Linked DNA regions of Homo sapiens. The protein of the gene in region 2 purifies or fractionates together with the protein of the main gene of each other region. This does not show direct contact. Each region holds a gene or a part of one and is shown on either strand. Other genes may lie near its edges.

What was found.
Region 1: the proteins of OPN3 (region 2) and EIF2B3 purify together in Homo sapiens (affinity purification with mass spectrometry; 3 studies listed by BioGRID and IntAct, with this or other methods). This does not show direct contact.
Region 3: the proteins of OPN3 (region 2) and EIF2B2 purify together in Homo sapiens (affinity purification with mass spectrometry; 3 studies listed by BioGRID and IntAct, with this or other methods). This does not show direct contact.

The regions. Positions count from the first base shown.
Region 1 is NC_000001.11:44,850,562-44,857,672, forward strand, and holds part of EIF2B3 (translation initiation factor eIF2B subunit gamma), read right to left. Parts: intron 443-7,111; coding exon 390-442; 3' UTR 1-389. UniProt on the Homo sapiens protein: Acts as a component of the translation initiation factor 2B (eIF2B) complex, which catalyzes the exchange of GDP for GTP on the eukaryotic initiation factor 2 (eIF2) complex gamma subunit.
Region 2 is NC_000001.11:241,602,330-241,609,440, forward strand, and holds part of OPN3 (opsin-3), read right to left. Parts: intron 2,251-7,111; coding exon 1,931-2,250; intron 1-1,930.
Region 3 is NC_000014.9:75,005,810-75,012,866, reverse strand, and holds the end of EIF2B2 (translation initiation factor eIF2B subunit beta), read right to left. Parts: intron 7,002-7,057; coding exon 6,906-7,001; intron 6,291-6,905; coding exon 6,153-6,290; intron 5,146-6,152; coding exon 5,079-5,145; intron 3,837-5,078; coding exon 3,679-3,836; 3' UTR 501-3,678; downstream 1-500. UniProt on the Homo sapiens protein: Acts as a component of the translation initiation factor 2B (eIF2B) complex, which catalyzes the exchange of GDP for GTP on eukaryotic initiation factor 2 (eIF2) gamma subunit.

The DNA.
Region 1 (7,111 bases), about 200 Mb from region 2:
GGATAAGGGACTGAAGTACTCCCAGGTCCTTTTAGGTGAGGGATACTTTCAGGACTGGGTTGGGTCAGCCAGTCAGAAAGTAGCCTTCCTAGGAGCTTTACATTGGACAGCTGCTGCCCCACCGATACATCTTGGCACACAAGAGTTAGGCCACTGTATCTGTCCTGTCCCACACACTTGCTCCAGATGATCTTTACCACATGACACATGAACATACACTGTGTACACCTGGAGCCCACCTGACATGGAGCTTTGGACTGCTCCACAAGTCTCCAGCATGCCTTTGGAAGCCCTTCTTTATTGGGAAATAAATACAGAGTTAAACAGGTGGGCCGGCCAACATCTGTGGCTTTGGAGGCCAAAAGGAAGGAGTCTGACTTGCTCAGAACTCAGATCTCCATGAGCTGGTCATTCCCCACGATCACCTCATTCACTCGTTTAGCTACAAAAGAAAAGGAAAAAAGTTTTCTGAGAACTGGCAGCAAGATGACATTTCAAACCCAACTGCTTTTTTTTTTTGGAGACCGAGTTTCGCTCTTGTCACCCAGGCTGGAGTGCAGTGGCACAATCTCGGCTTACTGCAACCTCCATCTCCCAGGTTCATGCGATTCTCCTGCCTCAGCCTCCTGAGTAGCTGGGATTACAGGCGCCCGCCACCACGCCTGGCTAACTTTTGTATTTTTAGTAGAGATGGGGTTTCACCGTGTTGGCCAGGCTGGTCTCGAACTCCTAACCTCAGGTGATCTGCCAGCCTCAGCCTCCCAAAGTGCTGGGATTACAGGTATGAGCCACCACGCCCAGCCAAACCCAACTGCTTCTAATTCTGTGTTCACAAAAATTTATTTCTCTACTATTGTGGCTGTGATCTTGAGAAGCTCTTGGAAATAGGGATATGAGAGAGAGAGCACCTTCCTATGCAGGAGGATGGGACCAACTGTCTATATACCTGGCTGTGGTGAGGCTTTAAATAGGAGAACTGAAACTGGGTCTTAAAGGGTGAATAGTTTCTACAGGCAGTGATGGAAGGGATTCTAGGCTGTTAGAACAGCAAGGGCAAAGACAGTGAGATGGGAGAAAGGGGACCATGAAATACTGTGGTGTGGCCAGAGAATAGGAAATGAGGGGATAAGGGTAAGAAATGAGGCTAAAAGGATAAACGGAGATAAGAAAGGGCAATACCTCATATATAATATGGAAATAATGACACCTACTGCATAGGGTTGTTGTGAGAATTCAATGAGTTAAAGGTAAGTGAATGCTCAATAAGTTGTGGCTATTATTATTTCTATAAAGGTCAAACCCATAAGGCCCTCCATGACATCTTTGCCTACCTCTCCAGCTTCATTTCCCACTATTCTCCATTTTGCCAGTAAGCCATACTGTTTTAATCCCTTTTTTTTTTTTTGAGATGGAGTCTTGCTTTGTCACCCAGGCTGGAGTGCAGTGGCGCAATCTTGGCTCACTGCAACCTCCGCCTCCTGGGTTCAAGTGATTCTCCCGCCTCAGCCTCCCCAGTAGCTGGGACTACAGGCATATGACGCCACACATGGCTAATTTTTTTTTTTTTTTTTTTTGTATTTTTAGTAGAGATGGGGTTTCACCATGTTGGCCAGGCTGGTCTGGAACTCCTGGGCTCAAGTGATCTGCCCTGCCTTGGCCTCCCAAAGTGCTGGATTACAGGCGTGAGCCACCGCACTTGGCCCTGTTTTATACCTTTGAACTTTGGCACAACCCTCTGCCTAGAATGCTTCCCCCTCCATTTTTTCCTGTTGCACTCTTACTACCCTATGTGCCCTAACGTAGCACCTCTAATATGCGATGCCTTCCCTTTTGCACTGTCCATTTCCTGCTTTGTGAAACCACTGTACCTAATATATATCTCTATTCCTACATCATTATACCACTCTCCTCTACTTCACTATAAGAACATTGAGGGCGCTGGGCGCGGTGGCTCATGCCTCTAATCCCAGCAGTTTGGGAGGCCAAAGCAGGTGGATCACCTGAGGTCGGGAGTTCAAGACCAGCCTGGCCAACATGATGGAACCCCATCTCTACTAAAAATACAAAATTAGCCAGGCATGGTGGCGCATGCCTGTAATCCCAGCTACTCGGGAGGCTGAGGCAGCAGAATTGCTTGAACCCAAGAGGTGGAGGTTGCAGTGAGCCGAGATCGCAGCATTACACTCCAGCCTGGGCAACAAGAGTGAAACTCTGTCTCAAAAAAAAAAAAAAAAACAAACCAAGAACATTGAGAGGAGAGATGGAACAGTGTAGTTATGATTATATCCCCAGTGTCTAGCATAGCTACTGCCACATGATGATTTTAGAGGTTTTGGGTAATGACTAAGATAGGATATGGTCATATAACTGGAGAGCTAAAGCTGAATGCAGATGAAGGTTGGTAGAGAAGTTCAGGGAATCATGAAGCCGGAGAGCTGGACAGTTTACTGATGAATATGTTTAAGTTGTCCAAGATGTTATGGACAAGTGAGGGAGAGGAGAGGAAGACTGTGAACCACAGGCTAAAGCTCTTAATAAATGTAGGGAAGTACCCTGGAAGCTGATCAATGATGCGGTGAAAGGTAAGAAGAGCTATAGAAAACTTTCAAGGAAAAAGAACTATAGAAAGGAGGCAGTGAGCCAATAGCCTGGAAGGGGCAGGGGGAGCCAGGGAACAGAGACTATATCTGGCATGTTGGGGTTGATGTATTTTCATGGTGATTCAGTAAGTTGGAGGAAACCTGTAGAGGCACAACAAGCAGAACTAGGCCGGGCGTGGTGGCTCGCTCCTGCAATCCAGCACTTCGGGAGGCCAAGGTGGGTGGATTGCCCCAGCCCAGGAGTTTGAGACCAGCCTGGGCAATAGTTAGACACCATCTCTACAAAAAATAAAAATATTAGCTGGATGTGGTGGCATATGCCTGTGGTCTCAGCTACTCAGGGGCCAGGGAGGGAGGTCGCTTGAGCCCGGGAGGTCAAGGCTACAGTGAGCTGTGACTGTGCCACCTACACTTCAGCCTGGGTGACAGAGTAAGACCCTGTCTCAAAAAAACAAAAAACTAAGCAAAGCTAGTGATGCTTGGTCAGGGATGGGAGTAGGGTCCAGTAAATACACTGGAAAATCTTTGGGCTGGAATCAGGTTGGGAAAGATCCCAAGGGGAAAAATACAAGGGAGGATGATAAGTTGGGAAAATAGCAATGGGATAGAAGGGAAAAACATCACAAATAAAAGGTGCACTGTTGGGAAACTGGGAAAGCTTCCTGCTGGCCAGGAGGATTTGACCTGTGTCAAGTATACATCAACAGCCTGACCTATACCAGGTCTACTTTCATGGTCAAAGAACTGATCACTCTGGCCATAGGGAAGAGATCCAAGTTCTGTCACTGACTGTAAGAAGAGACTCAGATGAAGCATGCTTTTAGCAGTTAGTGTTTTTTTTTTTTGTTTTTTTTTTTTCTGAATGGAGTCTTGCTCTGTTGCCCAGGCTGGAGTGCAGTGGTATGATCTCTGCTCACTGCAACCTCCGCCTCCCAGGTTCAAGTGATTCTCCTGCCTCAGCCTCCCAAGTAGCTGGGATTACAGGTGTGTGCCATCACACACAGCTAATTTTTGTATTTTTAGTAGAGATGAGGTTTCACCATGTTGGCTGGGCTGGTCTCGAACTCTTGACCTCAAGTGATCCACTCGCCTTGGTCTCCCAAAGTGCTGGGATTACAGGCGTGAGCTACAGCCTCTGTACCCAGCCATTTTTTAGGTTTTGACTGTTAGCTGTAGCCATTCTACTGCTTGAGAAGGTCAAATTTGGCTGCCAGTATTTTTGCCAGAGATAACCAATGAGAGTATTGGGATGGGGTGAGAAAAGTCAGAGTTGTTATAAAATGGCTTGTTTTCGTGTTGGTGCTAGAAGAGGGTAGGGAGGCCTACACTGAGTTACGAGCCATACTTTTGGGGAAAAAGACTGCTATGGATGTGGTGACTCTGGAGCATGAAAATGATTAGAATTTGGAGAGGAGACTGCATTATGTCTTTTTTTTTTTTTTTGAGATGGAGTTTCGCTCTTGTTGCCCAAGATGGAGTGTGATGGCGTGATCTCAGCTCACCACAACCTCTGCCTTCCAGGTTCAGGCAATTCTTCTGCCTCAGCCTTCCAAGTAGCTGGGATTACAGGCATGCACTACCACGCCCGGCTAATTTTTTGTATTTTTAGTAGAGATGGGGTTTCTCCATGTTGGTCAGGCTGGTCTCGAACTCTTGACCACAGGGATCCACCCGCCTCAGCCTCCCAAAGTGCTGGGATTACAGGCATGAGCCACCGCATCCGGCTGAGACTGCATTATTTCTTAGGATGAATGTTTTTTCCTGAAACCCCTTCATGTGAGGAAGACTGACGGAAGACTTTGCCATCTATTGAGCTCTTTGCTGGTAAGGATGTGAGTTGTTGGTGTTTGCCTAGGTCACCTATAGTAACAAGTCTTGAGTGCTGCACTGATGGTTAGGAGTTTGCTTTCACCATACGGCTCAGTCTCAAAAAAAAAAAAAAAAGAAGAAGTAATAGTGGAAAAAGGCAACTGGCCAGGGAGTTCCTGTGGCAGGAGGGCACTGACCACTGTGCTGGATGCACTGGTCCTTCCAGCAGAGGACAGAGAGAAGGAAGTGGTGGGGTTGTCCAGTTTAGAGCCCAGACAAGATGACTTCCCTGGCCAGCCCTCCTTCAGCAGGACCATTAAAGGGTCTCCTTGCTAAAAGGTGGACACATAGTGTTAATTAAAGCCAGAAAGCCCAGGAGTTTATGAAGCCCATCTCATGATGATTGCAACCATCGCACAGAGGCCTTTCTTGGAACCCTAACTTTATACCCTGAAATCCCCCAAAATATGTTTCATGGATCCAACATTCATTCATTCACTCTTTTCCCCTTCTGAGCATTTACCATAAATCAGGACCTGTTCTGAGAGCTAGGGATGCATATAGTTATGAGACAATCGACCTTGAGGATCTTTTTTTTTTTTTTGAGATGGAGTCTTGCTCTGTCACCCAGACTGGAGTGTAGTGGTGCAGTCTCAGCTCACTGCAGCCTCCGCCTCCTGGGTTCCAGCAATTCTCCTGCCTCAACCTCCCAGGTAGCTGGGATTACAGGCATGCACTACCACACTTGGCTATTTTTTGTATTTTTAGTAGAGACGGGGTTTCACCATGTTGGTCAGGCTGGTTTCGAACTCCTGACCTCAGGTGATCCGCCCACTTCGGCCTCCCAAAGTGCTAGGATTACAGGTGTGAGCCATCATGCCCAGCTGACCTTGAGGATCTTAGTAGGGAAGGCTGATTCACGGATAATTGCCATGGCTTGTGAAACATACTTTAATAAAGGTGTGGCAAAGCTCAAGGACACAGTGGAAGGAATGTGTAGTTCTGCTATGGGGAGTCATGGGAAGAGGCAGAGAAGGTTCTACAAAGGAGAAAACACTTGGTCGGAGTCTTCAAGAGAGGAAATCTAGAGAGAGCACATGTAAAAGCATGGAGAGGTATAATGGCACGGTATGTATGAGGAATTCTAAGTCTTTTGGTACACTCAAGGAGTAGTGCATATACCTGTCATTTAATTATATGTAATTCTCACAATTCTCCAAGGTAGCTATTATTGTCCCAATTGTCTAATTAAGAAAATCTGGGGCTGGGCGCAGTGGCTCATACCTGTAATCTCAGCACTTTGGGAAAGTGAGGTGGGTGGCTTGCTTGAGGCCAGGAGTTCAAGACCAGCCTGGGTGACATTGCAAAACCCTGTCTCTACTAAAAACACAAAAATTAGCCAAGGGTGGTGGTGTGCCCCTGTAGTCTCAGCTGCCCGGGAGGCTGAGGCACAAGAACCACCTGGATCCAGGAGGAGGAGGCTGCAGTGAGCTGAGATAGCACTACTGTACTCCAGCCTAGGCGACAGAGCAAGACTCTGTCTCAAAAAATTAAAATTAAAAAAAAAAAAAAAAAAAAGGAAAATCTGAGGGCTTAATGATTAAAAATTTCACTTGGTGCACAGCCACTAAGTTGAGTTGAGATGTGAACTGAGGTCTGTTTGATTCTAAAGCCCAAAAGGAAGGCATATGACTTTAAAAAAGGGAAGGGGGAAGAAACTGAAGAAGGAAATGATGTGGCGTCTACAGAGTTGGTGGGGTTAATTCCTTCAGCAACTCCCCTCCCCACCTTATTTTAGGTTTAGGAATAATACCAAAAGCAATCAGTCATTTTAATTTTTATTATTATTTTTAAGACAGGGTCTCCCTCTGTCACCCAGGCTAGAGTGCAGTGGTGCGATCTCAGCTCACTGCAGCCTTGACCTCTCAGGCTCAAGCAATCCTCCTGCCTCAGCCTCTTGAGTAGCTGGGACAACACGTGTGTGCCACTGTGCCTGGCTAATTTTTAATTTTTTTGTAGAGATGGGTTCCTGCTATGTTGTCTAGGCTCAAGCGATCCTCACATTTCAGCCTCCCAAAGTGTTGGGATTATTGGCATGAACCACTGTGCCTAGGCTTCAAGAATCACTGTACAGTATTGGTGCCAACCTGGGCCATTAGATCTATTGATATGTTTTCAAGGTTTTGAGATTAAGGGTGCATACATGTATAAGCTTATCTATAAGATTAATTTCTAGAAATGAAACTGTTAAGTCAAAGTAAAAAAATTTGACAGTGATGCCAGGTGCGGTGGCTTACGCCTGTAATCCCAGCACTTTGGGAGGCTGAGGTGGGCAGTTCTCCTGAGGTCGGGAGTTCGCAACCAGCCTGACCAACATGGAGAAACGCCATCTCTACTAAAAATACAAAAAATTAGCTGGGCGTGGTGGCACATGCCTGTAATTCCAGCGACTCAGGAGACTGAGGCAGAAGAATCGCTTGAACCCGGGAGGCGGAGGTTTCAGTGAGCTGAGATTGCACCATTGCACACCAGCCTGGGCAACAAGAGTGAAACTCCGAAAAAAAAAAAAAAATTGACAGTGATGTCAACTGCTCTCCAAAGATGGCTTTATCAATTTATGTTCTCGCCCGCAGTGTACGTATGTGCTTGTTTCCCACATCCTCACCAGCCTTTGGCATTATCAGTGCTGGTGTGAGAAGTAA
Region 2 (7,111 bases):
CATGGGATCACATATCTGGGAGCTCATCAATGACCTGAAATGAGGGCTGTATTAGTGGCAGTGCGGTAGAGGAAGGAGTCACAAGTTTGCCTTAAGTTGAGGAATGAATGCTAGATAAACTTACTAAACTACCAACTCCCTGAACTACAACAGAAATGTATTTCTCACAGTTCTGGAGGCTGGGAAGTCCCAGGTAGAGTAGCTGGCAAGGTAGGTATCATTCTGAGGCCTCCTCTCTTGACTGTTATCTCACTGTGTGCTTCCATGTTCTCTTATTTATGCACTCGTGGGAAGACAGAAAGAGAGACAGAGAGAGAGAGATAGAGATAGAGAGAGAGAGAGAAAGAGCAAGCTTTCTGGTGTCTCTTCTTACAAGGACACTAATCCCCTAATCCCATCAGACCAGAGCCCCATCCTCATGACCTCCTCTGACCCTAATTACCTCCCAAGGCCCCATCCCCAAATACTGTCACATCGGTGGTTAGAGATTCCACGTAGGAATCTGAGAGGGACACAAACATTCAGTCTATAACAGCAAGAAATTGGCATATTTGATATGCTCAATAAATATCAGGTAAATGAATGCTTAGTGAGTGACATTGTGGCACCAAGAGTCACCAATGGTTCTTTGAGTTAGCAGTGACAAAATGGAGAAAAATAAAGTGATAGCTAGAGGGAGCTGAGAGTAGATTGTGATTAAAAACAAAATAGCCTGGTAATATGCTAAAGGGAAAGGGCCAGTGGTAAGGGAGAGTGTGAAGATACAAGGGAAAGAGAAAATTATTAAGAAGTGTCTCTGGGGCATGGAAGGGGGTGGGGGAGCAATCAGAATACAGAATCGAGTTGGTCCTGGGAGACCTCTCCTGTCGCCCTGTAACTGAAGAGAGAGTCCTAAGAATCAGTGGTTTGTGTAAAGAGAGGTAAGGAGTCAAAGGAACCCTTGATAATGGCTTTGTTTGGTCCGATAAATCAGAAGCAGACTTACTTGATAAGAATGAGAGGAGACAGTAGGGTGAGAAATTAAAATGAGAAATGAGTCTGTGTAATAGTCACAGTGTGGAGACAGTAGACCACACATACAGGGATAGAAAGGTTGGTAGAACAAGGCTGAGAGGACATCTAAGTGTAGACAGATGTGTTTTGTTTTTTTTTTTCCAGCTCCTCCTTGCAGTTTGACTACAGGCATAGAGAAAATAGATGATTGAACTGATCTAGGGATTTTGTCTTTAACAAAGTTGGCATATGTAAAGAATGTAGAAACAAATGATTTAAAGTGATGCATGTAGCTAAGTCCGATTTTTTAAAAAGGTGAAAGTTAGAAGGGTTTGACGGAGTGAGCAAGAGACTAGAGACAGAAGCAGAGAATAGAGTTGGAAGAATCAGTGAATGAGGAAGGAAACATCCATGGCCAAAGCTAGAGACTGGGAAGTGGAGCCTGTTCCACACTGGGTTTGAGTTCAAACTGGAAAGTTCTTGTTGGCACCCAACGTGAAATTGTTTGTGGTCAGTTCTTACCCTTTATGACTCTGGTGTGATCGCCAAACAAAACATCTGTGCTGTTCTCTAGTCAAATTCATATGACCTCTGAATAAACAAAGTTATGGGAAGTGTGGAGTTCCCTCTTTTAAATTCTTAAATTTTAAGAGTGTTGGATAATGTAGGGTTTTTTGGTTGCTGATTTTGTCAGTCAGAAGATTTTTCTTTCCTTCTTTTGGTTGAGAGAGGGATGTAGAGAGAGTAAATGCTATTCCGCATTGATCTTTCCAGAGAGTGACTCATAGCATAAAATTCAACCAGATGGGAAGTCCCCTAGAACTGCTCTACCTCTGGGCAACTACTGATGACATAGGAAGACTTTCATTATTTTCCAGACAAAATTTTCTACCCTGGATGTGGTTTGGGAGGGGGGCATCTGTAGTCTTCAACTCACCATTCGAATGGAATATAGAATATGGCCATAGCAATGGGCTATGACACCCAGGGGCACCACCAGGCAGCCAAGAAATAAGAAAAGCACAAAGGAGGAATCGTTGGCATCCTTGGATTTCCAGTCCACAGTGCAGCCTAGTCCGTGTACGTCCAGGATGTACCTGTTCCATCCCAGGAGAGGTGCTCCTGCCCACGCCAGTGAGTAGAGCCAGATGTAGGTAATGGCCCTCCAGGCCCAGGAAAAATTGATCACTCTGGCATGGACCACGCGAATGTAACGTTCATAGGCCAGCACGGTTAGGGTGGCAATGGAAACAATCCCTGCAAGAAGAGAAAGTGGAAAAGTATAGCATGGTGCAGGGGGAAACCGGGCATAAGAGACGTGATACATTCTCCACTGGAAATACCTTACAGAGTATCTGAGATCGATAGAGTGCTCTCAAAGCCAAGAGTAATAGTGTCTATAGTCCCAAGGAAATTATACTGAAAATAGTTATCCATAAAAGGAACCACAGAAGGGCAGTCAGTGGCTCACGCCTGTAATCCTAACACTTTGGGAGGCTGAGGTGGGAGGATTGCTTGAGCCTAGGAGTTCAAGACCAGCCTGGACAACATGGCAAGCCCTGTCTTTACAAAAGATACAAAAATTAGCCAGATGTGGTGCCATACGCCTGTGGTCCCAGCTACTCAGGAGGCTGAGGCAGGAGGGTTGCTTGAGCCCAGAGAGGTCGAGGTTGCAGTGAGCTGAGATTGCGCCACTGCACACCAGCCTGGGCAACAGAGCCAGACCTTATCTCAAAAAAAAAAAAAATAAAATAAAATAAAATGGAAAATGCCATGCAGATTAAAAAAAGATTAGACAAAAATTAAAAGCCCTAAATCAGCCCCACCCCAAAGATGCCCCTATTGTATTAAACTTTCTCCTGAAGAGAAATTCCAGAACGAGTAAGGGAGAGTCACTAGAGCAAGTGTCTCTTTTAGTTTACCTTCTCTTGGCTGTCTCTGACTCAGCTATTAGAGGTAAAGTCAAAGGGGGTTGCAAAAGCTCAAGCTGAATGAAGTAGCAGTAAAATGATGCAGAGGACTGCCGTAACCTGCGTACTACCAGCAGATGTCAGCATACAAACTGTTCACACACAAGGATTGCTGACAGGGGTCAGGGGGTCTTCTGGGCTTGCATGGTCTTCACGTGTACCGCTATTTTGCAACAAGTCCGCTTTAATGATACTGTTTGTATATTTCTCTGTCACCTTCAGAGAGTAAGGTACTCACTTAACAAGCACCTACTATGTGCCAGGCACTGTGCAGTGGATGGCCCATGGTGACTAAGAGACAGAACTCTAGATGTCTGAAGGGAATGTACGTGTGTAAACACTGACAATGACCATGCAATGTGTGAATGCTCCCACTGCCACACAATGGATTGGAGACACAGAAAGGGAAGCATTTGCACACAAGGCAGAAACACATTCCAGGAAGAGTGAAGAAATATGTACCAGAGCATGGAGACGTAAAAGGACACCAAGGGGTCTATAAACGATGATTCAAAGATGTCAGGGCTCACAGGAGATGGAAAGAGAAATTTAGAGAGAGCCACATTGACAAAGGCTTTTAACTTCTAGCTAACGTTTGTGTTATTTTAATTTTTTTTATTTTTTAACCTTTTCCTCTATGAAATAGTAAATTATGAATCTGTTACTCTCTTGTCCTTTTACATCATTAGATTCCCCTTTTCCTCCTCCTCCTTTTTCTTCAGTAGTGAATGCTCATTCTGGCAGTAGTAGAGAATGTAAAACACGATTGGAGGCCATGGAAACCAACTTGAAGGCTATTGCAACAGCAGGCAAGACATGATGGGACCTCAGCTAGGATGACATTAAAAGGCATGAACAACAAAGTCTGGATTCCAGAAACATTTAGCAACTGGTATCAACAGAATCTATCTGCTTATCGAATGTGAGGCGTGAGGGGCGAGAGGAGTTAAAAGTAACTTTGAGGTTTTTGGCTGGGCACGGTGGCTTATACCTGTAATCTCAGCACTTTGAGAGGCCGAGGCGGGTGGATCACCTGAGGTCAGGGGTTTAAGACCAGCCTGGCCAACATGGCGAAACCCTGTCTCTACTAAAAATACAAAATATTAGCTGGGCGCGGTGGCAGAAGCCTGTAATCCTGGCTACTTGGGAGGCTGAGGCAGGAAAATTGTATGAACCAGGGAGGTGGAGGTTGCAGTGAGCCGAGTTCGTGCCATTGCACTCCAGCCTGGGCAACAAGAGTGAGACTCTGATTCAAAATAAATAAATAAATAAATAAATAAATAAATAAATAAATAAAATAAATAAAATAACTTGGAGGTTTCTAACCTGCCTAAGGAATAGCGAGTGATTACATGAACTGAAGTAAAAACCACAAGGTGTATGAACAGATGTGGGGAAGACAATAAAATCGTGAGCTTCCTGGAGCATAAATATTTGTTGAATGAGTGGACGCAGAGAGACTGAAAGAAAAGCAGTTCAAATGAAGAATGAAAATAAGACTGGTCTCCTGAGAAGTAAGGGAGAAAAGGGTGTGGGTGGCAAACGGGTTAAGAGGCCTGGAGGCAAGTCCCAGCTCCCCACGAAATAGCTCTGTAACTTTCAGCAAATCAAACAATCTCTTTTTGTTTTCATAAAATTGAAAATCCCTTCATATTTTAACATTTCACGATTCTGCAATTAATAAGAATGAAATACAGAGGTGCTGGACTCAGAAAGCAATTGGTATAACATAGTTAATATTCATTTATACCATGACAGGTTTGTTCTTCTGTGGGAGTTGGAGGGTGGGGAGCAATATTATTCCCAGTGTCTCACACACATGGCATCCAATAAATGTTCTTTGAATTAATAAGCGAAATTTACTAAATACTCAAGTGACCGGAAGAAGATTGGGTTTTGGAATCAAGTGGAAGAAAATACTTCAGAGAATAATGGTATAAGGCTGGGCGTGGTGGCTCACACCTATAATCTCAACACTTTGGGAGGCTGAGGTGGGCAGACCACCTGAGGTCAGGAGTTCAAGACCAGCCTGGCCAACGTGGTGAAAACCTGTCTCTACTAAAAATACAAAAATTAGACAGGCATGGTGGCATGCATCTGTAATCCCAGCTACTCGGAGGCTGAGACAGGAGAACTGCTTGAACCTCGGAGACAGAGGTTGCAGTGAGCTGAGATTGTGCCACTGCACTCCAGCCTGGGCGATGGAGCAAGACTCCATCAAAAGACAGACAGACAGACAGACAGAGAGCAAGAAGGAAGGAAGGAAGGAAGAAAGAAAGAAAGAAAAGAAAGAAAGAAAGGAAGAAAGAGAGAAAGGAGGGAAGGAAGGAAGAAAAAGAAAAAGGAAGAAAGAAGAAAGAAGAAAGAAAGAAAGAAAAAGGAAGAAAGAGAGAAAGGAGGGAAGGAAGGAAGGAAGAGAAAGAAAGAGGAAGAGAAAGGAGGGAAGGAAGGAAGGAAGAAAGAAAGAGAAAGGAGGGAAGGAAGGAAGAAAGGAAGGAAGGGAAAAGGAAAGAAAAAGAAAGAAAGTAATGATATAATAGCAAATATAGCAAATAATGGATTTAATTCAAATCACAGTAGTGATTATTGGGACAATGAAAGTATCAAGGTAGATGACTTTCATATTCAGAAGTCTATTTTTACCTTATTAAATTTTTATCTAAAAAGTGATATTATCCTTTCTTTACCTGATTAGATTCCTAGAAAAAAAAATCTAAAAACCTAAAGAAAATGACATAAGTTGACGCTAATGAAATACTGTTGGTTTTACGTAGTTTACAAACTTTCTTATTAAGTATAATGGTATTTACTTTTATAACTGCCTTTATGTGTTAAAACATAGTTTGGCACTCAACTTTTAGTTGATTTACATTGAATACGATTTAGTCTTTCATAGGCAAGAAAACTCAGTACAAATAATTGCACTGTTGTAAATTAGTAAATTTCAATGTACCTTAGAGAGGAATAAATGAGTTCTTATGGTGAAAGCAATAAGCTGGTAAAATAAGCTGGTATGAGCATATCATGTTCATATATTCATTCATTCATTTAGTCATTACTTATTGCTTGTGATGTTTCAGTCACTGTGCTAGAAAATAAATATAAAGAGGTGAGTGAAACCAACCCTCATGGCCTTAAGGTCCAGTGGGTAAGAGAGACAATAAAAAAACAAATCAAACAAGCAAATCAGTGCAGTGCTATGAAGAATAGAGAGTGCAGGGATAGAGGATAATGTGAGGCATGGTGGGAAGGACACAGAAAGGGACGCAGCTGCTATTGGCAGGCTGTCAGGAAAAGACCCATTGCACTCAGAGCTGAAGTATGAAAAATCCCAGCCTTGTGATAAGTCAGGGTGCAAGAGGTTAGTAACACTTTCCTTCTGGTTATTTTGGTCAAAGAGACTTTAACATTTACTAATATCGTTTTTGATCAAGCCTGTGTCTTAGCAAGCACAATGAGTTTCAGGTGCCTGATTTCAGCTGTTATGTACCATGACATGTTAGTACAGATCTAGCAAACCTTGTATTTCCCAAGTCCTCCCTGATAGCATGAGCATATAACTGAGTGGCAGCATGAGTCAGACTGACTTAGTCTTCGAGGGTAACCCAACTGAAATGATCTAATCTACATCTTCCTTGCAAAATATGCAGCCCTTCTCCCATCAATGCTTTATTTACTAACAAATTTTGGTCTTGAGTTGGAATTAATTGCTGTATTTTATTTGATTCCCACAACACTCCACCAGGAGGATAAGAATGAAAGGACTGTCTTACAACTACTTTAGACCTTTAACTGATGTTGAGCCTTATTAACGCAAATAAAAACTACATGGTACATGAGCAGATATGAGGAAGACAACCAAATTCTACTTCAAATGGTGCATCCATTTCCGTGAACACTGAAAAGCAATGGGAATGATGAGTGCTGCAAACTGGGTGCCGGTTATGCACCAGGTCCCATGATCATCACTCCACATATGATATGCACTCTTTTGGAAAGAAGGTCTGTGGCTCCAAGGGTTAAGGAATTGATGTCTCCACCAACAGGTGGTGGAGACAGTTTTGAGAACCCAAGACTTACTCCAAATCCTGTGATTTTGTCTTAATACCACCTGCCGCCACTAAAGGGTGACTTCTACCTCTCCACAA
Region 3 (7,057 bases), on a different chromosome or scaffold from region 2:
AACACTTCCAAATCACATTTCAAAATTGTTCTTTCATGTCAACTAGGTGCATGTCTGCTAAGGGAGTTTTTGCAAGGACAGGTGGATAGTGTGAGGCCTTTACAATAATCACATCACCATCTGGTACTATCTGTATGGCAGAGCAGTTCTGATGTAGTTGTAGTATTATAGATCATTACAGAGTATGCCAGTCATTCCATGATGGAACTGTGACTGGCAGCCTTCATTAGCCCAAAGACTGATGCAACAGATTGCTTTGAGAAATAGTTTTGAAGCACATCCATGAAACATATGATCCTATGGGTTCCAGCATTGATTTCTTTGAGGTATCATTTTACACTTCAGTTTTTCCTGGTAGAGTATTTTTCAGAGATGTCTCTTCTGAGGCTAAATTAGGAATTTCTGTTCCTTATTCAAGTTCCAAGAATTGTGCCTTTCCTGCCCTCTGCCCAAACTGGAAGATAGAAACCGTGGGAAAAAAGTGTCTTTACAAACTGCACTGTTATCTAACTTGGTTTATTTAGCATATTGAGGAAGACTTTCACATCCATGGAATCCTAGTTCTATTAATTCTCTCCAAGCTACAACAGTTGTTTTTTTGTTTGTTTTTTTCCGAGTTTCTCGGTTCCGCCAGCAAGGCAGGGGTGGGAGGTGGGCACCCCTGATACCAAGGCTGACAGGTAGTGAGTTGATGTGGAACTTCTGTTTCCTCCTGTTCAGTTCAGGTTCTCTCTTTCTGATACTTACCCCTCCTCAAATAGGGAAACGGAGAGAGGGGAAATAAGAAGATGAGCCTTAATAGGGTTTACTTAATTGGGGTCATAAAGATTCTAAAAAGTATGCATTCCTGCAGTTCTGTTCTAGGCACTGTAAGAGCTGACCAGAAAGAGAGCTTCTACCCTTATAACCTTCATCCAACTCAGTCATGCCTGGGAAGGATGTTGGTGCTAATTTTAGACACAGAGACTAAGATGGACAAAGGACAAGTATCATAAAGCATTTTTGGAGCCAGGAACAGATTTAAGTTCCTTGCCTCACTGCTGCTCTTACTCCAAACCACACAATTGTACCCAAGTGAATTGCTGTTAGAATTGGTGCCTTTGGAGGAGACAATTGCTCGTAATTGGTAGCTACAAGCCACTTCACTGAGAAAGCGTGGGGTCTTAGATGCTTTAAGAAATAATAGAAAGACTGAGCCTGAGTGAGTCAGGCTCTTCTGAGTCATACAGCTTTTAGGTCAGTGTAAAATGCCGACTTTCTGAGGTCTTACTTTTTTCCCCTCTCTGGAAGACCTAAGGCAAAGATCGCTCTCAAAGAGATATCAAAGAATAGAGACCTTTCCCTCAGAACCTACCTCTGCCCAGTGTTAACCAAAATGTGGTTTCAAATCACCTGTTCAAAGCCCACAGGCTATTTGTTAAACATGCAGATTCTTAGTGCTCCCTCCACCCACACAGACACTGCACAAGAGGCCCTGCTTTGGACCACTAGTTCCTAAACATGGCAGAAAATCTGGATCACCTGGGAGACTTTTTAGGTTAAAAACCGGAAACAATATGTAAGCATAAACATGTCAACAAAATTAGAGGATGTCCCTCTGCTTGCTGTGCTTGGTATTATACTTCTATACTGTTTCCCTATGCGTGTACATATAATTTTGTTTTGTTTTTGTGAGACAGAGTCTCACCCACTGTTGCCCAGGCTAAAGTGCAGTGGCCCAATGGCACTGCTCACTGCAACCTCTACTTCCCAAGTTCAGCCTCCCGAGTAGCTGGGACTACAGGTACCCACAACCACACCTGGCTAATTTTTGTATTTTTAGTGGAACTAAAAATTTTATTATAGTATTTTAGTTTCGCCATTTTGACCAGGCTGGTCTCAAACTCCTGACCTCAAGTGATCTGCCCTCCTCAGCCTCCCAAAGTGCTGGGATTATAGGCGTGAGCCATTGCGCCCAGCCAGTGTTGTTTTATGGAAATGAGTCCGTATTATGCATATTGCTCTGCAGCTTGTTGTGTTTTTTTTCCCCAGCTTGTTTTTAACTAACAGAGTATCAAATGGACTTCCTTGCAAATCTGTCCCATTCTTTTAACACCAGGATCACAACTCAAATGCCTACAGGGGTTAGGCAGATAACATAAATGAGTTAAATGGATCCAGTAGGAACTGCAGAAAACTGGAGATGTTCCATCCAATGGCATCAGATGTTACCCAACCACAAACTAACTACTGCCATTTGGAAATGTTGGCCCAGAGTTGCCAAATTTGAGTTTTCAAGAAAAGCAAGAAATCTGAATTTTTGAAATGTGCAATCTCCAGATTTTTAAATATTGGTAACAAATTCACATTAAATGCAGTGAACCAGCCCAAATGCCTTCAATCCAGACACTGCCCCTCCAGCCATCCTTTTGAAACTTCTATTGCCATGTATAATGTTCCACGGTGTAACTGTCAATACTTAACCTTTCTCCTATTGCTGGACACTTAGGCTATGACATTACAACTACTACACTGAACACTCTGTATAAATCTTTTTGCTTGTACAAATAATTCTAGAAATACAGCTTCCAAATTGCCCTCTAAAAGGCTGTACCAATTTATAGTCCTATAAACACTACATGAGACTATCCTTTTCTGGGAAGCTTTAAACAGATTCCCAGGTAGTAACCCTGAGATCAGATGCAGTAGGACTGAGATGAAACCCAAGACTGTGTGAGTGAGTGATCGGAATCACTCTCAGGTGATTCTGATGATCAGCGAGGTTTTGGAACTACTGTTTTAGACTATGAACAAACTTTGGGGCCAGGAGCAGTGAATTGTAAAGGAAACTATACTTTCATTTGTACTTGTTATTTTTTTAGAGACAGAGTCTTGCTCTATCATCCAGGCAGGAGTGCAGTGGTACAATGATAGCTCACTGAAGCCTTGAACTCATGGGCTCAAGTGATCCTCCCACCTCAGCCTCCAGCATAGCGAGGCCACAGGCATGTGCCACCATGTCTGGCTAATTTTTTAAAATATTTTTTTGTAGAGACAGGATCTTGCTATGTTGCCAGGCTAATCTCAAACTCCAGGCCTCAAACAAGCCTCAAACAAGCCTCCCACCTCAGCCTCCCAAAGTCCAGGATTACAAGTGGGAGCCACTGCATCTGGCCAGTACTACCATGTTGTACACTTTTCCCGCTAACTACAGCCCTCTATGCAAACACAAAAAAGGCTCTGCTGCTGCTGTTTCAAGCAGTTCTGTCAGAGTAGGACAATAAATAAACCAACTATGGAACCTTCAAGTGGCTTTTATTGGTAGAGCCTAGAAAAAGTGTCATAGCCATTTCTGAGCAAAAATCTGTATCCCAGTAAGGTATTCAGTGTTATGTTTAACACACTACTGAACCAGAAAGTTTAAGTTCCTGACACAGACGCAACCAGGTCACTAAGAGGCTCCAAAATCAACAAGTTAAGCCCTGCTGCTCTGTTAAGATCTGAAAGGCAAGACACAGTCCTGGATGTGTGCCCTTGTTACGGGGTGACTAAAAAGGCAGGCAACAGTATCAAGGATTTTTTTTTTAGGTGGACTCCTGTGCACTCCCACATTGCAAGGATGTGCTTCAGCAGCAACACTCAAGTCTCCTCTTCATTCTGTATCTGCCTAAGCAATCTGCTTAGGACACGTGTGGTCGGTCATAAAACATGATCATCAGGATGGTAGAGTTCACTCATCAGGCGGTAGATGTAGGAAGGTGCATTCCCACCAATGTTGGAGATAAAGAGGGTAATGAGCTCTGGGGGAACGTAGTCAAACACAGGGCAATGCACGCTGACCTTCTCCAGAATGTCCCCTGAAAGGCAAGCACACATGCTAAAGGTAAAACTGAGGCTCCCTCTCTCATAATTAAGTAGCATATAGATTCCAGGCTCGAGAATGCAGGCATATTAGCTCCCCAAGGACGGGAAGCTATGGAAAAATGCAAACCAGAAGAGATGACTTCAGATCATGACAATCCCTGCTTACAACTCTCCCATGCCTCTGCACAGCCCTCAGAATAAAATTCAAACTCAGGATTGAAGTTTAAGATCTGGGCCCTCCCTGACACACCACATGAATTACAATTTGGACCACTCTCCCCCTTGCTCATTACTGTCTAGCCATGTATGGCCATCCTTTTCTAACTGGCTAAGCCCCTGCACCAGCTCATAGAAAACTATGATCTTCATATGGTGGACTCTGTTCATTCAGGACTCAGCTGAAATGTCATCTCATTAAGACCCTTCCTCAATCTCAGGCCCCTAGCCACTTTCTACCACATCAGCCTTGCTTGTCCTCAGGCATCCCATGACCTGATACTTTCTCATCTGTCTTCCACAATAGAATGTGTGGGAACAGGGCCTTATCTTTTTCATTCATTGTTTTATCTTCAGTGCCTAGAAGAGTGCTGGATACATTGTAGGTGCTCAATAACTATTTCTTGAAGATTGAATGTTTATTTAAATAAAGGGATGAAGTCAATCAACTTCCAAGAGGAACTAGGACCCCAACCAACTACTATGCGTTGCTCTCAGATGGTGTGTAAGGCCACCCTTGCTGATGAGGCTGCACGCGTAATGAGCTGAGCTGCTGCCTTCAGAAGAAGCCAGAGAAAAGAACCCCAAGACATGAGACTATCCAGGCTACAGGTGAGTTTTCTAAGGAGGAACATTTCACAACCTGCTTCCTTTGGGAGTCAATTCACCAAAATGACTCCTTATAGCAGGAAAACAGGTACATTTTCCCAACTGGTTGTTGTCTATATCTCAAACAGCATGCAAAGCCAAACCCAGACAATGCTAAATGATCCAACCCACAATAGCCCCAACAAATCTAAAATATATTTGTCTCAGAACAAATTAACATGGACTTGGTCAGGTCCTCAAGCACTTTGAGCTTCTAAAGAAAACAGTCCCCACAAGAAGTATGATAAAAAACACAACTTGACAGCATTCAGTTCTACTGACCAACAAAACAACAAAAAGACCAAAACACATGCACACACAAACCCCGAATACACACAACACATGCACGCATGCACACACAGCTTCTGTACCTTCTGTGAATGGCAGGACTTCTTCAGGAGCCACAAACTTATGAAATGAGTCTTCTTCATTGGGGAACTAAAAAGGAAAAAATTTATAAAAACTAGAGACCCAGCAATTCCACTCCTAGGTATGTACCCTAGAGATGAAAACATATGTCCACACAGAAAACTTATACACAGATGCTTATAGCAGCATTATTCACAAAAGCCAAAAGCTGGAACCAACCCAAATGCCCATAAACAGATGAATGGATTAATAAATTGTGGTATGTTCATATAATGGAATATTATTCAGCCTCGAAAGGAAATTCTGACATTACAACATGGATGAACTTTGAAAACATCATGCTAAGTGAAAAAAGTCAGGCACAACATGTCACATATTATATGATTCCTTTTATACAAAATGGGCAAATCCATAGAGACAGGAGCAGATTGGAGGAGATGGGGAGAAGGACAAATAGGGAGAGATTACTTAATGGGTACAGGGTGTTTTTCTACAGTGGAGAAAAAGTTTTGAAACTAGAGAGTGGTGGTTGTACAATGCTGTGAATGTACTAGATATCACTAAATTGTATACTTTAAAATGGTTAATTGTATGTTATGTGAATTTCACCTCAATTTAAAAAATAGAGACCTATAAATAGGTTGATGTTTTCAAAGCAAATAGCTTCTATCACTGATGAAATGGCTCTTCACTTAGTCCTTGCTTGTATTCAGGTTACAAAGGACAGGCCCTGCAACAATAACAAAACTGATTCTATGATCCTACTTTCAACCTGCTTGGCATTTTCAGAAATGGTCAGGCGACAGGGAGTGGTGGCAATCGTAAGCAAAGGACCTTTCCCAACTACATATTGTCCTTACAATCTTGACTTCCTAAAGTTGACAGCTGAGAACTCTCAACTGTTTTACTGAATCAAGACTTCTGTGGTTCTTTCCAGCCTCCACTGGGTGTAATCCATTGAGTAAATGCAGATAAATGGAGGCCCTGGAGTGAGGTGGTTGAAGTCCCAGAGTTCAAGCCTACCCTTTGGCTTCCTTCTTTTCTGCTGGCTTCTAGCTAGAGACAGACACACTTACCTGTGGAGAAAGTTTGAACATAGGTGCACAGACGATGAGTGGGGTGGAATGGTGTTTTGCTGCCAGTGCCAGAGTGTGAGTTCCTGTCACAGCTCTCAGGGCCCCATTGGCCAGGATGGTCTTCGTGCCAATGATCACCTTTGGGACAAGACAAAAAATGTGAGCCATCCTGGGGGTGGAGCCCTAAAAGGGCCACTGGCCACAAAAAGCTAAATGCTTAGACCTCAGAATTGGTATCGTGAGGGGTCACAGACTGGTAGAGGTGAAGGGATCCCTGGCTCAATACAAGTTCTAGCTTAAAAGTAGGTTTCCAAGGAAAGAATGAATGTAAAATGGGACAAGAAACTGCAAAACCTACTGCTCTCAGTCCCATATTTTCTGGAAATTGAGATGCCATACCTTCTGAGAAGCCAGGAATCTTTTTCATTCACTATCCACAACTGCCAAGCTCTTTGAGCATAAGGCAGGAGCCCTGTAGCCAATCCCTAGAAACTGACACTCTTGCCTTAGTTCTATTTAATACTTCATTCTTTTCAATGCTTCAACCAAATTTAGAGGCTACTCCAAGAGAGGAACAATGATGCAGAAAAAAGGGAAAAGAAATTCAGTTAACAGATTAAAAAGGCCTAAGTATGTACTTTGAAAGGTGCTAGAAACTTTATTCTCTCACCGTGGATATTACAGGAGGAGATAAAAATCAATATTTTAGAAACATAATCTTCATGAATTCAACATAACTCCAGATATACCCACCTTGTTGACTCTTGACATAACGGCAAAAATGGCAGCATCAGTCATGACAGTTGTCTCAATACCTGCTTTGGACAAATTCACAGCCATTTCATGACCCTGCAATGGGAGGGAAAGGCTGATTCTAAGAGAAAGAGTGAGAAATAGTGAAAAGT